Homo sapiens: one gene and its partners. The protein of the gene in region 3 interacts with the protein of the main gene of each other region in a pairwise test. Each region holds a gene or a part of one and is shown on either strand. Other genes may lie near its edges. The genes, in order: APPL1, ATXN1 and RHEBL1.

What was found.
Region 1: the proteins of RHEBL1 (region 3) and APPL1 interact in binary tests that used the Homo sapiens proteins (3 or more experiments, as listed by UniProt).
Region 2: the proteins of RHEBL1 (region 3) and ATXN1 interact in binary tests that used the Homo sapiens proteins (3 or more experiments, as listed by UniProt).

Annotation. Positions count from the first base shown.
Region 1 is NC_000003.12:57,265,718-57,272,822, reverse strand, and holds part of APPL1 (DCC-interacting protein 13-alpha), read right to left. Parts: intron 5,082-7,105; coding exon 5,031-5,081; intron 4,482-5,030; exon of another isoform or gene 4,426-4,481; coding exon 4,336-4,425; exon of another isoform or gene 3,283-4,335; coding exon 3,136-3,282; 3' UTR 1-3,135. UniProt on the Homo sapiens protein: Multifunctional adapter protein that binds to various membrane receptors, nuclear factors and signaling proteins to regulate many processes, such as cell proliferation, immune response, endosomal trafficking and cell metabolism.
Region 2 is NC_000006.12:16,324,403-16,331,507, forward strand, and holds part of ATXN1 (ataxin-1), read right to left. Parts: intron 4,069-7,105; 5' UTR 4,030-4,068; coding exon of another isoform or gene 3,940-4,029; 5' UTR 3,909-3,939; coding exon 1,992-3,908; intron 1-1,991. Other genes in the region: uncharacterized LOC127903862, read right to left, coding at 3,940-4,029. UniProt on the Homo sapiens protein: Chromatin-binding factor that repress Notch signaling in the absence of Notch intracellular domain by acting as a CBF1 corepressor. Binds to the HEY promoter and might assist, along with NCOR2, RBPJ-mediated repression. Binds RNA in vitro.
Region 3 is NC_000012.12:49,066,914-49,075,009, forward strand, and holds the start of RHEBL1 (GTPase RhebL1), read right to left. Parts: upstream 3,067-8,096; 5' UTR 2,873-3,066; coding exon 2,821-2,872; intron 2,262-2,820; coding exon of another isoform or gene 2,194-2,261; coding exon 2,122-2,193; intron 123-2,121; coding exon 55-122; intron 1-54.

The DNA of each region.
Region 1 (7,105 bases), on a different chromosome or scaffold from region 3:
TCGAGAACATCCTGGCTAACACGGTGAAACCCCGTCTCTACTAAAAATACAAAAAATTAGCCGGGCGCGGTGGTGGGCCCCTGTGGTCCCAGCTACTCGGGAGGCTGAGGCAGGAGAATGGCGTGAACCTGGGAGGCGGAGTTTGCAGTGACCCAAGATCACACCACTGCACTCCAGCCTGGGCAACAGAGCAAGACTCTGTCTCAAAAAAACACTTTTTTTTTCATTTTATTCAGGTGGCAGGTTTTACAACATACTAGCTCTTAGGATCTCTCAGCATTAATAGGATTCAAATTTTAAATAATATGGTTCCTAGATATAATGCAAAATTAACTCAAATGCCTTTACCATATACGATTTTATCTTCCCTAGGATGCACATCCTACTGACCTTTTCCCAAGTATAGTGGAAACACATTTACCACCCCTAGATTGTAGAGCCTGAGGATTCTTTTGAAATTAAACAATAATCATTGCAGATGTGGCAAAAACTAGACTAGCTTTAGGGACTCTGTTCAAGATAATAGCTTTAATCCCTGGTTGGCAAGTTCTCAAAATTTTTAAAGGTAGAAGGAATAACTGGTTTCCTATCTACTGACTTCATTGCCATAGTTACAAACATACTGTTCAAATAGGTAACAGAATGCATTGTAGAAGTAGGCAGGCTTAATATCTTTTCTTTTTAAAAAGGAGTTTTGTTGATTTCTAACACCATTAAGTGTAAGTCTGAATGTGAGAAAAGATATCCCAAAATCGAATCCAGTTACCCTCAAAGCATCTCAGAACTAGAAGGGATTTCAAAGGAGGGTAACAATCAGCTTTACCACTAGGCAGAAACCCATGGGCAGCCTTTAAATAACAAAAAGAGCTTATTAAAACAGATACTTAAATCTCTGCAGTAATGGAATAGTTCATATAGTTCAACAGTAATGGAACAAAAGCTGAATCATCTAAAATTGTTAAACCCACTCATAACTTCTATTTAGCATTGGAATGCACTTCGATCTGACCTATGGAGATGATGGGTTTATTATTGTAGAAATTCCTGTGAACATGACTTAAAACGAACTACAGGTCTGTCCAGCATCCCTAAGTCTGCCAGTGCCTTAACTCTAGCCTACACTATGACCCAGGGTGCTGATAAAGGGCAGCACTTGCTACCATGCAAAGCACCAGCTTAGTAAAGCTGCCTCCTAATGATGAACACCTTCCTTGTAGAGTAACAGATTTCATCTGAACTAAGTGAGGTGACAATTTGTAGTATAAACAAAAGACTTAATGGAACAGAAAGCTCCAGTCTCCAAAAGGTCTTAAAAACAGGACTTGCCATGACTACTTAAATGCTGGCAACAGAATAAATTCCAACTTTAACAAAACAAAAGAACTGATACACTATTGTGAAAGCATTCCTTTTGGTAAGCACAAAATAAACTTTTTATCAAAAGTATTTCATAAATTTCTACTTTTTTACTGTATGTTTTGGTAACATAAAGCATCAGTAAATAAACATTACACCCATTTGGCACATGGATAGAAGGAATATCATGATCCTATATATCATTATCCTATTCCTACAGAAAACAATGTACATATACAGTGTGAAACAGCTGAGTTATATTTTGAGACCTAAAACAGATGCCATTTCTAATGCAGAACTAAGAAGAAAAAACTGTATATCAAAGAAAAAAAAAGGCTTTTTCCCTTGTAAAATTATTAAAGTCTTAGTGGCTAACCTCTTGAAAAATTTGTAAATGTGTGACTATGTAAAGTATTTTACCCACTATATTAACTTTGTATATATATACTTTTTCATGTGAAACACATGAAAACATAATTTCTATTAGCAGTGTTAAAAGTGATTACAGAAAAAAAATTAAGGTTTAACATAAACAATAGGCAGTAGAGAAATGTTATTTTAACCTTGGCACCAGGTTAAATCCTTCCTTGGTCAACTTCTCCTATACTCTACTAGGCATTCAATTCATTTTCAATCTTTCACAAAATTGGACCTTTTACTCATTTGAAGAGTAGACATATTTACAATAATTAGTGCAAATTATTCTATTATCATACATTAGTTATTTGCCTTTGTGGATATAAAGTGGTGATTCAGTACTTTATCAAAACATGGCATTATGAAAATACTGGGAATATATCAGTCTGAAATTTAAAAGATTACATTTTCTAAACTAAACTCTGGGAATTTTTACTTTAAGCATGAAACATAATTGTTATAGAACTTCTTTTGAAATGTCACTTGACTTTCAATAAAAACTATTTCACACAATGCAGAAAATACAATGTATCATTCCATAGCAGTATCTTTACTTGTCAATCCTAATCTAAAATGTATTGAACAAAAATCTTTTAATAAATTCCAATATCTTATTTTTAACCACTACTGCTCTGCAGCAGTAATTGAAGTCCCAACCTGAGAACTAAGAATGTGATAATAAAATGCCAAGGGCTCTATCAATCTTGAACTGAAGACACTTAAGCTTCTTTCCTACTGGCATCAAGTGCAGTACATTAGAGAAATGTGAGCAATCCCAGAAAGTACCCTGAGATCAACAGTACCACCTGCCACAATTTGAAACCTTAACTGTAAAATCTCTGTTCTAATTATTTTATAAAAGTTCTATTGCACATTTAATATTGTTAAAATATTTGCAAACTTGTAGAATTCTCTGTATAAAGGGCTTTAAACTTATTCAGCTAAATGCTTCCTCATCACCAGCAAAATGTTCCTAATGAAAGAAAAGCATATCCATGAATGTCTAAGCCTGAAGAATAAATGATTTCTTATGGACACAGCCAATTACAATGCAAGAATTAAAAGTTCACAATTTGACGGAAAAAATTCTTGAGCAAATGTAATTCCTCAGCAGTCTGCTTCAGGGAGATGAGCAGGTTTCCTTTAGATGTTAATACATAGTACATTATGTTTAAGGGGGAAAAAAGATCAATGCAAACCTAAGTCATCAAGTTCAATCTTTTTTTTAAAATGTAGCTACAACAAATAAGCAAATATAAAGCTTAATCTCCTCCTTGATATTTCAACATAGTTGTTACCTTCTGCCATTTCACCATAGAAACTGTCAAATTCCAAGGGGGAATATCTACCAAAAGTATAAGCTTATGCTTCTGATTCTCTCTTCTTTCCTCCTTCTCCCAAATCACTCTCTTCTGACTGGCTACTGCTAAGGACAACAAACTGCCCCTCACTACTGGCTTGGTTTGGTCTACTGGAAGCAGCTATCAACCGACTTTGTTCTTCCAAGTCCTAGTGGAAAAGACAAAAAAGAAACTAAGTTACTTGTCTGCAGTCAAATGGCAAATTATGCAGTTAAGATACATTCTTGAGAGCCACTTCTTCTGTCATAAATATGTATGCATACTTCTGACAACTTGATAAAAAGAAAAGCTACACCCAAACAATACAACACCAAAATGAATTTTGGCACCATCCTATAAAAGCCAGCATTCAAACTAAAATCTAATATTTTATCTTTCTTTTTTTATGACCAACAACCAAATAAAGCCCATCATCAATCATCTCTCACTATATATTATAGTAAAACCCTCGAAAGGGATCACCCCCACACTCCTTTCCCTTCCCCTCTCCAGCCCTTTTCTCCATCCCTGTCCAATTCATCTTTGCTAAATCAGGTGTCACCTTCCCTCAGCCTCGCCTATCAAGAAAGCCTCACTTCAATGTCATCTTTGCCACTTCCCTCTTCTTTGTCCAGAGAGCCAGCCCACAGCCAATGCTTATTGATCTGTTCTAAGCATCCCAGCTGTCTCCTCTTTTCTATTCCTACTGTCAATCTACAACCCATAACACGCTCTTACAATTTCATGGATCATTTAATGCATTCTTCAAGTTTTGCTCTGAAATTTGTCTTTTAAAATTATTCTGTTGGATGGACAATGATTTGACACTCCTGGCAATATTAAAAATATACATTTCATTATATATTTCATATAACATATATATTTATTTATTTCCCCCCCATAGAAGGCAAAATGGCTTTCAGCAATGGCAGTTAAGTCTACACAGCCTCTCAACTGCTTTGACAGAGACAACCTCCTCTGAAATATTAAAGTTCTGGTATATTTTTGAAACAGTCATATTACATGTCAACGTAACTATAATGTAAACATCATATCAAAAAACAGATGTGACCCTTTTCTGCTATGGTATGAATCATCTGTTTATGAAGTGGCTGAACAAGCAGAAACAGCCCTTCATTTGGAAATTCAAATCTGAAAGTCATAGTGCTGAATTAAGTCTTCACAAACAACACATAAAGATCCAGACATTAGGACTGTATACCTTTTCAATCTGTTTTTGTTTATTGAGTTCTTTCTGTTGCTTCTCTTTTACTCTCTCTATTTCTTTTTGTTTTTCTGATGCCCTACGATCCTAAAGAACAGATGAATAAAACTAATGAATTAAATATGAAATAACTTTAAATTTTAGACATTTCAGTTAATATCACATGGTAACCTTTCAATATTTTTTTGCATTTATACATAAGAAAGCACATCAACAGTTTATATTCAATGGTAAACAATTATCCAAATTCTAAATGCTATGTTGGTAATAGTATCACTGTTAACCTTGCTTAGCAAAATCATTTTATTTACTTGCTAATATGAAAGAGCTAATATACTATTTTAGTTAACATTCTTGGAAAATCAAGCATCTTGGATTCCTTTTTTTTTTTTGAGATACAGTCTCGCTCTGTTGCCCAGGCTGGAGTGCAGTGGTGTGATCTCGGCTCATTGCAACCTCCGCCTCCCGGATTCAAGTCATTCTCGTGCCTCAGACCTCCTCAGTAGCTGGGATTACAGGTGCACGACACCACACCCAACTAATTTTTGTATTTTTAGTAGAAATGGGGTTTCACCATGTTGGCCAGGTTAGTCTCGAACTCCTGACCTCAAGTCATCTGCCCGCCTCGGCCTCCCAATGTGCTGCGATTACAGGTGTGAACCACTGTGCCCAGCCACATCTTGGATTCTTACCAGTTCAGCATGCAAAGCTATCTGTTTTGCCAGTCCAACAGAATCACATATCTAAAAAGAGAAAAAGTATGAAAAATTCAGGCAGTTCTCACAACAAAGCAAAAATGTCAAGTATCCAAATAACTGATGGAACTAGTTTTATAACTAATCCTAATACATTGCTTCAAGCAAAAGCATATTTAAGAATGCTCAAGCCCCCAAACCAAGGCTTTGTATGTTTTCCTTGAAGTCTACAGGATTCCACTGCTGACTCTCACCTTCATATATACCCCACTTCTTGTTATGTCAAATTCATTACTGTCACAGTAAGGCCTACGAGGAAGAAGCATGCAGCTGCTAATGCTATTCTCAGCTGAAGACATCTGAAAATGGCTGGTTTTGGTTCCCAACATAATGTTTGGTTCCCAACATAAATGAGAGGCTAAAAGATTGCACCAGCTATCAGTGGCAGGGAAAACATGGGTCTGTAGAGTCAGAAGGCCCAAACCATCAGCTTGGCTCTATTCAGAGATGCTTTGCTCAAGCAGCTCAGTAAGCCTAGGCAAAATTTGGGAGTTTTTTCCAAAAATCTTAGAATTATATAAGAATTTTATTTACACAAAAAACTACAAAACACTGATGAAAGAGACTGAAGACACAAAAGAACATCCCATGCTCATGGATCAGAATAATATAGTTAAAATAACCATATTGCCCAAAGCAATCTATAGGTTCAATGCAAATAGCCAAAGCAATCTTAAACAAAAAGAACAAAGCTGGAGGCATCACATTACCTAACTTCAAAATATATTACAAGGCTATAGTAAGCAAAACAGCAGGGGATTGTTATAAAAATAAGACACATGGCCAATGGAACAGAATAGAGAACCCAGGAACGAAGCCACTTGTTTACAGCCAACTGATCTTTAACAAAAGTGACAAAGAACTTTCACTGGGGAAGGGATATCCTCTTCAATAAATGGTTCTGGCAAGATTGGAGAGCCACATGTAGAAGAATGAAACCAGACCCCTCCCTCTCACCATACACAAAAATCAACTCAAAATACATTAAAGACTTAAACATAAGACCCAAAACTATAAAAATACTACAAGAAATTATAAGGATCAGAGCAGAAATAAATGAATCTGACATGAAGAAAACAATACAAAAGATCAACATAACAAAAAGTTGGTTTCTTTGAAAAGATAAAACTGACATTTAGCCAGACTAAGAAAAAGAAGACTCAAATAAAATTGGAGATTAAAAAGGTGACATTACAATTGATACTGCATAAATTCAAAGGATCATTCGTGGCTACTATGAGCAACTACATGCTAGTAAATTGGAAAATCAAGAAGAAATGGATAAATTCCTAGACAAATACAACCTACCAAGATTGAACCACGAAGAAATCCAAAACCTGAACAGTCCAATAACAAGTAACAAGATCCAAACCATAATAAAAAGTCTCCTGGTAAAGAAAAGCCCAGTACCTGATGGCTTTCCTGCTGAATTCTACCAAACATTTAAAGAAGAACTAATACCAATCTTACCCAAAATGTTCCAAAAAATAGAGGAGAAGGGAATACTTCCAAACTCATTCTACGAGGCCAGTATTACCTGATACCAAAACCAGACAAAGACATATCAAAAAAAGAAAACTACAGGCCAATATATCTCATGAATATTGATGCAAAAATCCTCAACAAAATACTAGCAAACCAAATTCAACAACACATTAAAAAGATCATTTATCATGACCAAGTGGGATTTATCCCAGGAATGCAAAGATAGTTCAACATATGCAAATCAATCAATATGCTACATCACATCAACAGAATAAAGGACAAAAACTATTTAATCATTTCAATTACTGCTGAAAATGCATTTGATAAAGTTCAACATCCCTTCATGATTAAAAACCCTCAAAAAAACTTGGTATAGAAGGAATATAGCTCAACATAATAAAAGCCATATATGACAGACTCACAGCTAGTATCATACTGAATGCAGAAAAACAAAAAGCCTTTCCACCTTTTAGATGGAAGATGAGTAATCAGGTAAGAGAGGAAAAAAGGCATCCAAATTGTAAAGG
Region 2 (7,105 bases), on a different chromosome or scaffold from region 3:
ATTGCACCACTGCATTCCAGCCTAGGAGACAAGAAACACTGTCTCAAAAATGAAAAAAAAAAATGCCCAAAACAATTCAAACCATTAATTAGTTTATCTTTTTTTTCTTGTTTTATTTTATCTGAATGTCCCAAATAGCAGCTATTTCATGACTATTTTCAACTCAAGCTGGAAGGAGGCTCTGTCCCATTTGAATGTTTTCAAATCCTAGATGGAAACACTTGTAGAAAGTACGCTCGATAGCCAGGAAAGCTCTCAGCTGCAGGCTGAACCTGCTGGACTCCCAGCAACTTGGGCAGTGAAAGAAATGGGCTGTGGAATAAATGCATGTAATCGATCTAAGAACCTGGAAAAGGGTAGATTGAAGGAGCCTGTGGAAATTAAGAGCGTTAACCATACTTCCAGTGACTCATCTTGGCTACAGCTGACTTTACCCCAAGCCCAGCAGGTCACCTGGGACAGCCCTGACTTCTCAGATTGTATTAACCACGCTTTTATTTTCTGATGCTTTGATATTTTAGTGTCTTGTGGATCCCAGAGGTATAGTCTCTCCTAGGATTAGCTAATTCCTAGAGGCCTGACTTTTATATGCAAACCAACCAGTCCAGAGCTAATTCCTAGGAGCCTGACTTTCATATGCAAACTAACCAGTCCAGAGCCCACTCCCCAGCAGCCTCCTATATTGGTCCATCACACTTAGGGCTGCCTTCCATCTGTTTTTTTTTTTTTGTCTGAGACAGAGTCTTGCTGTGTGTCCAAGGCTGGAGTGCAGTGGCCTGATCTCGGCTCACTGCAATCCCCACCTCCCGGGTTCATGCAATTCTCCTACCTCAGCCTCTGGAGTAGCTGGGATTACAGGCACACACCACCATGCCCGGCTAATTTTTGTATTTTTAGTAGAGACAGGGTTTCACCATGTTGGCCAGGCCGGTCTCGAACTCCTGACCTCTGGTGATCCACCCGCCTCAGCCTCCCAAAGTGCTGGGATTACAGGTGTGAGCCACTGTGCCCAGCCCTTCCACCTGTATTGATCACCCCAGCACCAGCAGCCAGACAACTAAGGACAGCCCCTACACCCCAGAGCACACTGGAATTATCCACTCTAACCAATCCTAAACCCGTTTACCCTGCCTCCCATGAAACCACAATAAAGGCTGTTGTTTGCCACATTTCCCCTCACTCCCTCCACCTCCTGACCCACCTGGGGCTTCCCCAGGTGCCCCCCACTTTACGGTGTTCTACACCTCTTGGTGTAGAGTGCCCTTTCCTCTTGGGATCAGAGAGTATAAAAATTATCTCGTCAAAGAGAGTTGTCTGCTGATCTATCTGTTGGCCTTATCATACCTAAATAATAAGACATTATATATATGTTGGAGACCGGGCCTTGCTATGTTGCCCAGGCTTGAGTGCAGTGATAGTCACAGGTTCAGCCATAGCTCACTACAGCCTCGAACTCCTGGGCTCAAGTGATCCTCCTGCCTCAGTCTCTGGAGTAGCTGGGACCGAAGGCATATACCACTGTACCCAGCTAATAAGACATATTTTAAAACATGGATGTTGCAATGGGATATGATTGCTTTAGCATCTAATCCCCTCACTCCAACGGCATCCTCTGTCTTTTCCTGGTAAGAAAAAGTGCCGAATGACCACTAGAAGGACCTGAAGTCCAGCAGCGTTTCCTAATCAGGGTTCCTCATCTTAATCACAGAATTCAAAAAATAACTAGAGTGGTGAGTTTCTGGATTGTCTCAAGGACTCCATAACTAGCCCCACTCTCCATGCATGGAGGTTAATTCATTACACACAGCAGAGATCACGGGGAAATGGGGCTTATTTTTTCTAGAGAACGCAGTTGGGAAAGGCCGAGTCTAAGGTCTAGGTGTACCCGAGAACCCTTAATCCTGCCTCATAGAAGCAATTCGTCTTGCCAGGAGATGATGATGGCATCACGGTGTGGTGTCCCATCCCTGTGCCACCCTGGCTAACGTTACCTGGGCTCGGTGCTCCCCGACGGCGAACTGTATCACGGCCACGCCCGGGCTATGGCTGTCTTCAATCCTCTCTACGGTGCTGGAGTCGATCTTCAGGTCGTTGCTTATCTCTGCACTCTGGATGAAATCTTCTGTTTTTAAGTCTTCCACCTTCTTTAGCTCCCCGTTGGCCAACTGGATGATGGAGCCTTTCATGAAGTAGGGAGGCAGCGTAGGGGGAGCCGCCGCCGGGGAGGCCACGGACTGCACCACAGGCAGGTGGATCTGGGCCTGCACCATGGCTGGGTAGGCGGCCTGGGTGACCAGGGCCTCAGGGTTGAAGTTCTCGCTCTTGGGAAGGGCGGTGGTGACGAACGTGTGAGGCACTGCAGCAAACTGGGGGGATGACGTGACTATGGCCGGGGCTGCCCCCGACGCTTCCATGTCAGTGCTGCCGACCGGGATGAGCAGGGGCTGTGTGCCGGGGATCACCAGGTGCTGGGGCAGGCTGCCGGCGTAGGTGATTGCTTGCTGCTGGCCGCTCAGGTAGCCGATGACAGGGGGTTGAGTCCCTGCGTAGAAGGCCGTGGCTGGCAGTCCCACCGGGAGTGGCTCTGAAGCACTGTGTGTGGTCTGAATGACCGTGTGGGGTGAGAGCGCGTAGGACCGGTGGCCAGGCTTCCCTAAATGCAGGCCACTTTTGTCGTTGAGGGTAGAAGGGGAGGCTTCACGATGAGTGGCCTGTTGCACCTCCAGGTCAGCTGCGGGCGTGTTGCTGTTGGGCAGGACCATCACAGAGGCCCGGACCCCCGAAGGATCACGACTGCTGTAGTCTGAGGGGCTCGGGTGGACCACCACGTGCCTGGACTCGTACGGGTGAGGAACCGACTTGCCGCCTGCCTTGCCCAGGCCCAGGTCGGCTGAGGACGGGGCCCCGTACCGCCGGCTCTTCTCCATCTCACCGTTCAGGACCTCCTTGGCCTGGATGGCCTGCTGCAGCCGGCTGCTCTCAGCTTTCTTGGTGGCCTCCCGAGGGACAAAGTGGCTGCCGGAGTCGGCGTATTGCATGACGACCTGGGAGGGGGGCCCCAGGGTGAGCGTGTGTGGGATCATCGTCTGGTGGGGGTGGAGGTGGACGGGGATGGCCGGAGGAGAGGCGGTGCGGCCGGTGTTCTGCGGAGAACTGGAAATGTGGACGTACTGGTTCTGCTGGGCTGGTGGGGGGGACCCCGGGGTGATGAGCCCCGGAGCCCTGCTGAGGTGCTGCTGCTGCTGCTGCTGCTGCTGCTGCTGCTGCTGCTGCTGATGCTGATGCTGCTGCTGCTGCTGCTGCTGCTGCTGCTGCTGCTGCTCAGCCTTGTGTCCCGGCGTCTGGCTCAGACTGCCCATGTTGGCCAGCAGAGTGGAATAGGCCTCCAGCTGGGAGCGCTGGGATGGAGTGGTGGCCCCTGCGGCCGAGGCCACTGCACTGGTGACGGGGTTGGCGGTTGGGGGGATCAGCTGTGATGGGATGAAGCTGGCATAGGTTCCACTGTATTGGGAGGACCCAATGAACTGGAAGGTGTGCGGCAGGTGAGCGTACTGCACGGGGGACACCGGGGTCCCTGGCTGCGGGGTGGCGTACGCGGCAGGCAGCGTGGTGGCCACGGGGACAGACCTGGGAGCGCTGGGCGGGGAGTAGTCCAGCCCTGTGGACAATGCTTTGTGTAAACCTATTCCCTGTTGTAAACCAAGCTCCACCGAGGTCCCTGCCGGCCCATGCCTCCCGCCCCCGTGGCCCCGGCCACCAGGGTTGCCCGGGAGCCATGCTGTGCCCTCCACCCGGTGGTTGTCGCTGGGCAGGGTAGGGGCCTTCTCCTCGGAGGACCGGCTGGTGGCGGGGATCTCGCGCTTCTTGGGAGGCAGGCATTCGTTGCTCCGCTCTTGGTTGGATTTCATTTTTCGCCGTCCCCCCTCCACGGTGACTGTTTCACTGTCTGGATGGCTCTGATTTTAGTCTGATAAACGGAAAGTCACATTTGATTTCTGTAGGGGATCCAGGCTCTTCATGAGGAATCATCTCCCCGTGGGTACAATCCGCCAACAGCAGCTCTGGATGCTGGGAAAGGGAAGAGGGCAGTGACAAAGGGAAAAGGAAAGGGAGGAGAAAGGGAAGGAGGGAAAGGACATCAGAACATGAGCACCGGGGAAAGAACATCTTTGGCAAGATTAAGACTAGGCCCTGGACTCGGTGTGAACTCCCATAACCCAATCATACCCCAAGCACTGAAGCAGAGAAAACACTAGCCAACACTTTGGGAGGCCGAGGCAGGCAGATCACGAGGTCAGGAGATTAAGACCATCCTGGCTAACATGGTGAAACCCCGTCTCTACCAAAAATAAAAAATAAAAAACAAATTTAGCCTGGTGTAACATTAGCTGGCACACGGCTGTAGTCCCAGCTACTTGAGAGGCTGAGGCAGGAGAATTGCTTGAACCCAGGAGGCAGAGGTTGCAGTGAGCCGAGATTGCACCATTGTACTCCAGCCTGGGCAACAGAGCGACACTCTGTCTCCAAAAACGAAACAAAACAACAACAACAAAAACAAAAACACTAGCCGTGGCAGCTGCACATTATAAAGGAAGATTATGAAGACACTGGGCAAGTGAACACTGTAACACATATATTTTTTAATGGAGTTAACAACTCCCCTAAGATGTTCTCAATACCCTCTCTCCTGTTTTTTTTTCTCCTTTTCTTCTTCAAGGGCAGATGATGCAGTTCTTAAATTTCCTTTTCAGAAATGTTGGTTCCATTTCTCACCTCTCCTTTGCCTGGCTGGAACATAAAATGAAGCCCTTGGAGAGCATGACACCAGCTGGACCCTGCCCTCAGAGCCAGGCACTGAGAAAAAGCAGGTTAGCAGTGAAAGTCCAGAACAGTCCTTGCACTCGATTTCTGAATCCTCATCTGCCAGAGCCACTACTCTCCAAGATTCCCCTTAGCTCTGGGTCCACACTGGACCTACGATTTCCTCTCCCTAATACACACACACACAAACACACACACACACGCCAACTCAGCAGAGGCCGCCAGAAATAATCCTGTTCTCTGCAAGTTTCAAAAGAATTCCCAGTACAGCCACTCATATGATGACGGAGTGAGACTGTTAAAAACCGAATTTGATTATGGTTAAAAAACCCAAATACCATACAAAAATAGGGCTAGTGCACTGAATGTTTTCTCAGTGGGTTACATGCTTGGTTTGTCCATCTCTCTCTTCCTTTTCAAGTTGTCATTGAAGTTCCCCTTCACACCGTCCCCTTTCTCATTGGAAAGTAACAACTCGCCATTAACACTAGAGACGACAGCTCTTTCAGACAAATCAGATCAGTGTGTTCAAACCTGGACATACAAATGGTGACCCTGGAGCCAGTTCTTATGGTCAAGTATCTCAGTCTCTTACTAACCACTGAAGTCTGAGTTACTGCTGCTGTGTGGGCAAACCAATGCCCAACAGACAAGAGGCCAAATATCAGTGGAACTGACATGACCCAGGCTAGCAAGCAGCGGATGTGATTGCTTCCACAGGTAGCAGCTGTAGGTATGCACAGTGCAACATGCTGTGATTCTGAGAGCTGTGGGATTGGGCTTTGGGAATTCCACACCCTTGGGTTTTGGTATCTCACATCCAGACCCTCTTTTCAATGATCTGATTTTCTTTCTTTCTTTCTTTCTTTCTTTGGAGAGATGGGGTCTTGCTATGTTAACCAGGCTGGTCTTGAAATCCTGGCCTCAAGAAATCCTCCTTCCTTGGCCTCCCAAAGTGCTAGGATTCCAGGCATGAGCCACTGTGTGTAGCCAATGATCCGATTTTAAAACAAACACAATAAAGTAGCGGCCTTCAGCATTCAATCCTTGTCCATGTTGGAGCAACACTGAAATCCCTACTGAAACATAACCCCCTTTCTCTACTCTGCCCCCTACTTTGTAACTATTTTTTAGAGGGGGCAATGATTTTTTTCCTTCCTTCCTTCCTTTTTTTTTTTTTTTTTTTGAAAAGGTCTTGCTTCGTTGCTCAGACTGAAGTGCAGTGGCGTGATCTCGGCTTGCTGCAACCTGTGCCTCCTGGGCTCAAGTGATCCTCCCACCTCAGCCTCCCAGGTAGCTGGGACTACAGGTGCACGCCACCACACCCGGCTAATTTTTGTACTTTTTGTAGAGGTGGGGTTTTGCCATGTTGGCCAGGCTGGTCTTGAACAGGCCTCAGTGATCCACCCACTTGGCCTCCCGGTGCTGGGATTACAGGCATGAGCCACTGCAGCCAGCTTGGAAGGGGCAATGATTTAATGGCCCTTATTGGTTTTGCTCCAACATCATCAATGAACATCATAATGAAATGACAAATGATACAACAGAAAGTTCTCAATCCTTAATGATTTTGATCAGATATCTAGGAAGGTGCAGGTTTAGAAATTTGGTGTCTCGATATCAAAGGACATTTCAGTAAGAATAGAATTTCTCATATGACAAGAGAGGCGCTTAAAGACTGGGACGGAAATGAAAAATAAGGTTAAAAAAACCCTAAAACACTTATGCTGAAGAAATGAAGTGTTGAAGGAGTAATGTCACTTATTTACTCTCGCAACCCAGGTGTTTTTTTTTTGAGATGGAGTCTCACTCTGTCGCCCAGGCTGGAGGGCAATGTGCCAATCTCGGCTCACTGCAACCTCCGCCTCCCGGGTTCAAGCGATTCTCCTGCCTCAGCCTCCTGAGTAGCTGGGATTATAGGCGGCTGCCGCCATGCCTGGCTAATTTTTGTATTTTTAGTAGAGGCGGAGTTTCACCATGTTGGCCAGGCTGGTCTCGAACTCCTGACCTCAAATGATCCACCAGCCTCTACCTCCCAAAGTGCTGGGATTACAGGCGTGAGCCACTGCGCCCTGCCCACCTAGGGTTTTTGTAAGTGACAAATAACTGTGTTCTGTACAGCCTTCCCTTGTAAAAAGAAGTTCTAATAATGAACTTTTATCTTTAAATTTCAAGACTCACTCTTAAGAAAGGGAATGCCAAACGCTCCCACATTTCCATACCAACGAGCAAGGAAAACTCATGCGTGAGACCTACTCAGAGAGAACCAGTCCATGCGCCCCCT
Region 3 (8,096 bases):
CTTCATCTCCGAGGGCTGAACTGCCACATTTGGATACCATACCCCAACTGGTACCTGCCCTGCTGTGTCCACCAGATGTAGGTGAAACTCATCTTTGCCAAGAGTCACTATCTTGCTGTAAGCTGAAAAGAAAAGAAAACTTGACTGTGAAGTGCCTTATAGGACCAGCGATGTATGTCCCCTGACTTTTTTTTTTTTTTTTTTTTGAGACAAGAGTCTCACTCTATTGTCCAGGCTGGGCTGCAGTGGCATGATCTCAGCTCACTGCAACCTCTGCCACCCGGGTTCAAGCTATTCTCCTGCCTCAGCCTCCCGAGTAGCTGGGATTACAGGGACCTGCCACCATGCCCGGCTAATTACATTTTTTTTTTTTGAGATGAGGTCTTGCTATGTTGCCCAGGCTGTAGAGCAGTGGCTATTCACAGGCGCACTCTTAGCACCCTATAGCCTGGAACTCCTGGGCTCAAGCAATCCTGTCACCTCAGCCTCCCAAGTAGCTGGAACTACAGGTGTGCACCTCTGCACCTGGCTGTCTCCTTACCTTTTTTTTTTTTTTTGGCAGCATTTTTTAAAGTAGATTATTGGTTGGGCGCAGTGGCTCACACCTGTAATCCCAGCACTTTGGGAGGCCAGGGCAGGCGGATCACTTAAGACCAAGAGTTTGAGACCAGCCTGGCCAACATGGTGAAACCCTGTCTCTACTAAAAATACAAAAAATTAGTTGGGCATGGTGGTGCATGCCTGTAGTCCCAGCTACTCAGGAGGGTGAAGCGTGAGAATTGCTTGAACCCAGGAGGTGGAGGTTGCAGTGAGCTGAGATTGCGGCACTGCACTCCAGCCTGGGTGACAGAGCGAGACTGTCTTGAAAAGAAAAGAAAAATAAAGTAATTACTTTTGTTTTATTGATGAATAATAGATGTACCAAGTTTCAGGGTACATGTGACAATTTAATACATTCATATAATTTGTAAAGATCAAATAAGTGTATCTGGAATATTCATCACCTTAAATATTTGGCTTTTCTTTATGCTAGAACCATTTGAATTCTTCTCTTCTAGCTATTTTGAAATGTAAAATAGCTTATTGTAAGCTATAGTCACCCTACTGATCTACTAAGTCTTATTTCTTCTATCAAACTATATATTTGTACCCATTGATCAATTTATCTTCATCCCTCCCACTCCCTTCCCCCTTACATTCTTTTTATTCTTTTTTTTTTTTCTTTTTTTTCTTGAGACATTGCTTCACTCTTGTTGCCCAGGCTAGAGCGCAGTGGCACGATCTCGGCTCACTGCAACCTCCGCCTCCCAGGTTCAAGCAATTCTCCTGCCTCAGCCTCCCGAGTAGATGGGATTACAGATGTCCATCACCATGTCCGGCTAATTTTTTGTATTTTTAGTAGAGACGGGGTTTCACCATGTTGGCCAGGCTGGTCTCGAACTCTTGACCTCAGGTGATCCACCTGCCTTGGCCTCCCAAAGAACTGGGATTACAGGCATAAGCCACGGTGCCCAGCTTTTTTTTTTTTTTTTTTTTTTTTTTGAGACAGTCTCACCCTGACACCCAGGCTGGTGTGCAGTGGCACGACCTTGGCTCACTGCCACTTTTGCCTCCTGGGTTCAAGCGATTCTCCTACCTCAGTCTCCTTTGTAGCTGGGATTACAGGCGTGCGCCACCATGCCCAGCTAATTTTGGTATTTTTAGTAGAGATGAGGTTTCACCATGTTGGCCAGGTTGGTCTCGAAATCCAGACCTCAATCCATCCGCCCGCCTCAGCTTCCCAAAGTGCTGGGATTACAGGCATGAGCCACTGCGCCCAGCCTCCCCTTACATTCTTAACCTTGGGGGTGACACAGATAGATCAGCTCCAGGGAGTTATCCAGGTAACTGGAAAGACACGCTAAGGTTCTTAATGTCTACATCTAAACTATCCCAGACTCAATATCTTGCAAAATCCATACTCTAGCCATCCATCGAACAGGATTGCTAAAGAAGAAATCAGATGTAATGTCTAAATAAATCAGCCCCTTGGCACCAGAGAAATAAATTATGGAGTTGGGTGGGGTATCCAAGCCCTCCGGGTCGCATACCACCAGCACACTAGGGGAGAAGTCTACTCACTATTCTCCACTGTAGGATCGTAGCCTTCCGAGAACTCGCCTTCCACAAATTGATGTGCCAAAGATGTCTTCCCTGTGGGGAGCAGTGTGACAGTTGTATCCAAATCATCCATCCACATTCACATCCTCTGTCCTTTCGGACTGTGGCCCAGGACCAAAGGAGACCCCAAATTAACACCACAGTCTGTGAGTGCCTCAAGCAATGCTATCCTTTGTGTCTACCCTCACCCTCTTTTCACCCAGGGTCTCCGCACTTTGGCTACCGGATGCATTCAGAAGCGCAGCAGGAAGCCTTTCCCGCCGCCTTCCCCACCCCATCCCACTCGTAGGAAGATCCAAGATTCCCTAGGATCAAGTCCGCCCCGCCCCAGGACACCTGCGACTATCTGTCCCCACGGAGACCGCGTCCCGGTTTTCAAATTGTGACCCCACCCCTATCCCCAAAGTAACGCTGGGACCACTCTGAGATTCCCGCAGCCAGGTCCGCATTAACCCTTAAGTGCTCCCGCTTCCTGCAGCCTCCACACACCACCAACTCTTCCAATCCTCCACTCTTCCATTCCTCCACTCTTCCAATCCTCGCTCTACAACCCCATCCTTACGATGTCATCATTCCTCCCTGGGTCGCGTTCCCACGGCAGCGCGCCTCTTCTGGCTACAAAGCTGCTGCGCGTCCGAGCTCTGCAGGGCGGAGACTCACCTACACAGCGGTATCCGAGGATGACCACCTTCCTGTAGCGGACTAGCGGCATGGCAGGAGCCCGCCCCAGGGGCTTGCGGAACTGCGGGCTCAGAGAGCCCGAAAACGAGGTCAGGGTGTGAGCAGGCGCGGCAGCTGGTGCAGGAAAGTCGCTCACCCCGAAGCTGCCGTGGGCAAGTTAGAAGGAAACCAAAACAAGCGCCGCGCCCGGAGCTGCCCACGTGATCACAACACAGCACGTCTAACGCCAGGGAGCCGGGCGCCCGGGGAACTACTGAGCCGCGCCGCGCCGGGCTCCGCCCCCCAGGCCGCTCGCCATTGGTCCATTAGAATGGGTAAGGGCGGTGCCGCCAGCAGGAGGGAAGGGTGGGCCTCACGTGGAGCGGGAGAACTGGGAGCTGCGCGTGCGCAGACTGGAGCCGGTTCATTCATAAAGAAACAGAAAGGAACCCGGGGTCCTAAAGGCGTTTGCGCATTTACAGCCTAGCTGAAGTGGCTTCGAAGAATTATGGATGGAAAATACCCGTTTTGTGGTTTCCGGTCATAAGATTCTAGCCCTCCCTTTTGCATGGTCTCTGGGGTCCTTAGATAGGGAGAAAACCGCCAAAGTTCTAGTATATTCCTTCTGCTTCCCCCAGCCTTCAGCCCCAGACCTATCAAGGTTTCCAGTCTTCCAGCATCTAATTTCAAACTGCAATTCTTATTCTTGCAGAAATTGCTAGAATTTATGATCAAGTAGTCTGAGGTTTCTTCTTCATCATCATGATCCTCAAATATTCATTTTTCAACAAATACTGAGTATATACTACATGTTTCAGGCATTGCTCCAGCTTTGGGGTCAGAACATGGACATCACAGACAATGTGTCTGCTCTTATGAAGGGAGAAACAAACATACAACAAGGAAATATCAGAGAGTGTTAAGTGCTGTAGAAGATGGTGTGATGAAAGATGACCACTTTATTTTTTTTATTTTTTTATTTTTATTTTTATTTTTTTTGAGACGGAATCTCGCTCTTTCTACCAGGCCGGAGGGCAGTGGCTCTATCTCGGCTCACTGCAAGCTCCGCCTCCCGGGTTCACGCCATTTTCCTGCCTCAGCCTCCAGAGTAGCTGGGACTACAGGCGCCCGCCACCGCGCCCGGCTAATTTTTTGTATTTTTAGTAGAGACGGGGTTTCACCGTGTTAGCCAGCATGGCCTCCATCTCCTGACCTCGTGATCCGCCCGCCTCGGCCTCCCAAAGTGATGGGATTACAGGCGTGAGCCACCGCGCCCGGCCGACCACTTTATTTTTTAAAGACAATACAGCATTTTTAATTTTTTTTCTTTATTTATTTTGAGACAGGGTTATGAGACTGGCTAATTTTTGTATTTTGGGGAGAGATGGGGTTTTGCTATGTTGCCCAGGCTGGTCTCGAACGCCTAGCCTCAAGTGATCCACCTGACCCGGCCTCCCAAAGTGCTGGGATTACAGACGTGAGCCACCGAGCCTGGCTGAGATGACCACTTTAGTGATACTTTCTCTCATAGGAAACCCCATTTAAACTAAGATCTGAAGGAACCAACTAGGAGATTTCACAAGAAGAATCCACCAATGCTAAGGCGTTAAGATGGAAATAAATTGGGTAAATTCCAGGAAGAGGGGAAGAAAAAAAGAAAGCCAGTTAGCCTAAAGCAGATGAAGTCTAAGAGAATGGCAGAGGCCAGGCCACATAAAGGAGTCTGGGCTAATTCTAAGTACTTGAAGGTATTTAAGCTGGGGCATGACATGATCTAAATTGTCTTTCTAAAAAATCTCCCTGGCTGTAGTGAATAGATTGGGGTTTGAGGGTAACAGGAGCAAAAGGAAGCAGGGAGATTGGCGAGGAAACTGTTACCTGTAGTCCAGGTGAGAGATGAGAGCGCTTGACTAGAGTGATCATGTTGAATGAAGTTGAGAATTCAGGATATTCTGAAGCTAAGGTTAAAATGACTTGTGGAAGGATTGGTAGAGGAGGGAAGAAAGGAAGGAAATCACCTAGATTTATAGAGAGTTCGACTATACTATGTGCCAGGTGCATTTTATTGTTATCTCATTTAATATTCACAAAAGCCCTAGGCCGGGCATGGTGGCTCATGCCTGTAATCCCAGCACTTTGGGAGGCTGAGGTGGACGGATCGCTTGAGGTCGGGAGTTCGAGACCAGCCTGTCCAACATAGTGAAACCCCGTCTCTACTAAAAATACAAAAATTAGCCGTGCGTGATGGTGCATGCCTGTAATTCCAGCTACTCAGGAGGCTGAGGCAGGAGAATCGTTTGAACACGGGAGGCAGAGGTTGCAGTGAGCCGGGATTGCACCATTGTACTCTGCACTCCAGCCTGGGAGACAGAGTGAGACTCCATCTTAAAAAAATATATATATATATATATATATATATTCATCTTCTACTTTGTGCCAGGCACTCTTACTATGTGTTGCACACTAGGATACAGAAATAAATAACAGATGCCTTTTATACTGCTTGTCCCGTCCATATGAACTCTCCATTCTTTTCCACCCAGATTTATGTCCAGGAGGCAGACCTTGTCTCCTGGCTTTCAGTGAAGCTCAGCCAAAGGAAAGCACACACAGAAGATTCAATGGACAGAGGAGAGTGGCTCTGTCCCCCATTGAAGGTCACAGTACCTCTCAAGGCAGCTGCCTCCTCCAACACACACACACACAGCTCTCTCCTGGTTTTCAGTGACTCCCCTCAGCCTTTATGCCTATAGCAGTATCAGCCTCTTTTCTGTTATTCACCTTGGGGCATTGCTCTATCTGTTGTGGTCTCCCTATACCCTGCCCACATCTTTGTAAATAGTCTCTTTATTAAACCATCTGAATTCTCCTGTTTTGAATCAGAGAGAAAGCAAAAGAGCCAAGGCAAAGGGCTTTCTCCTCTTGTGACTTTTTCTTTTTACCTGGTAAGGGAAGCTCTCACAGCAGATATTCACCTACATCTCATTGAACAAGATTGTTTTATATAGTCATTTCTAGTTGTAAGGGAACCTGGAAATTTTAGCATTTTCTTTTCCAATGTCTATAGTAAAGGAAGGCAAAAGACAATGTGATTATAAATAAATGTTTTGGCCTGACGTGGTGGCTCAGGCCTGTAATCCCAGGACTTTGGGAGGCCATACAGGTGAATTGCTTGAGCTCAGGAGTTCGAGACCAGCCTAGGTAGGCAACATGGCAAAAGCCTGTTGCTATAAAAAATACAGAAAAAAAAAAGAAGAAAAATTAGCCGGGCATGGTGGCACGTGCCTGTAGTCTCAAGCTACTTGGAAGGCTGAAGTGAAAGGATCACCTGAGCCCAAGGAGGTTGAGGCTGCAGTGAGCCATGTTTGTGCCACTGCACTCCATCCTGGACAACAAAGACCCTGTATCAAAAAAAAAAAAAAAAAAAAAAAAAAAAAAAGAAGCTAGGCACGGTGGCTCACGCCTGTAATCCTAGCACTTTGGGAGGCCAAGGCGGGTGGATTGCCTGAGCTGAGCTCAGGGTTTCGACACCAGCCTGAGCAACACAGCGAAACCCGGTATCTACTAAAATATAAAAAATTAGCTGGGGCCGGGCACAGTAGCTCACGCCTGTAATCCCAGCACTTTGGGAGGCTGAGGCAGACGGATCACCTGAGATCAGGAGTTTGAGACCAGCCTGGCTAACATGGTGAAACCCCGTCTCTACTAAAAATAGAAAAATTAGCCAGGCATGGTGGTGCATGCCTGTAGTCCCAGCTACTCAGGAGACGGAGGCAGGAGAATCGCCTGAACCTGGGAGGTGGAGGTTGCACTGAGCCGAGATCACGCCACTGCACTCCAACCTGGGCAACAGAGCGAGACTCCATCTCCAAAAAAACAAAAAAATAAATGTTTCATGAGCCAATCTATAAAACCTGCACATTTTAGGACCAAGATATTGGTTGATTAAATAGTTGTTCATTAAATATCAATCACTTTAAAAAGTAATGCATAGGCCGGGCACAGTGGCTCACACATGTAATCTCAGCACTTTGGGAGGCTGAGGCAGGTGAATCATCAGGTCAGGAGTTTGAGACCAGCCTGACCAACATGGTGAAACTCTGTCTGTACTAAAAATACAAAATTTAGCCGGGCATGGTGGGAGGCACCTGTAATCCCAGCTACTCGGGAGGCTGAGGCAGGAGAATCACTTGAACCTGGGAGATGGAGGTTGTAGTGAGCCAAGATTGCGCCACTGCATTCCAGGCTGGCTGACAGAGCGAGACTCTGTCTCAAAAAAAAAAAAAGTAATGTACAAATGGTTTATTTAGTAAAGATCAAAAAAATAGGATCAAATAAAGGAAAAATAGAACTTGGAGATAAGTCAAAAAAATATTTTAAAATATTATATATAAATATTATTTAATAGATAATAAACATATTTATTATATATTATTTATATAATAATAATATAAATAAAGGAAGCAATTCATCCTAATGTTAGATAAATGGGCTTGGAATAAGATTTTTTTTGTTTTTTATTATTTTTACTTTTTTTTATTTATTTATTTTTGAAACAGGGTCTCACTCCAATTGCCCAGGCTGGAGTGCAGTGGCATAATTTTGGCTCACTGCAGCCTCTACTCCTCAGCTCAGGTGATTCTCCTACCTCAGCTTCCTGAGTAGCTGAGACTACAGGCATGCACCACCATGCCCAGCTAATTTTTGTATTTTCAGTAGAGATGGGGTTTCACCATGTTGTTTAGGCTGGTCTCAAACTCCTGGACTCAAGCAATCCACCCACCTCAGCCTCCCAAAGTGCTGGGTTTACAGATGTGAGCCACCGCTCCCAGCCTGTTTTTGTGTTTTAGAGACAGGGTACCACTCCGCCACCCAAGCTGGAGTGCAGTGGTGCCATCATAGCTCACTGTGGCCCATAACTCCTGGGCTCAAGTGATCCTCTTGCCTCAGCCTCCTGAGTAGCCTAAGACTATACAGGCATGCACTGCCATGCCCAGCTAATTTTTTTTTTTTTTTTTTTTGTAGAGATGGGGTCGCTCCCAGGCTAGTCTTGAACTCCTGGCCTCAAGCAATCCCTCCTCAGCCTCCCAAAACACTGAGATTACAGACATGAGCCACCAAGCCTGGCCTGAAATAACATTTCTAGGACAGCATCATACATTGCTATGTCTCAAACAACTGAGACAAAATAAAGATAAGATGTTCCCAGAAAACTGTTTTAAGTATCTCTGGGAAAAGTGAAAAATGTCTCTACTCTGTTTGCACCCAAATTATAT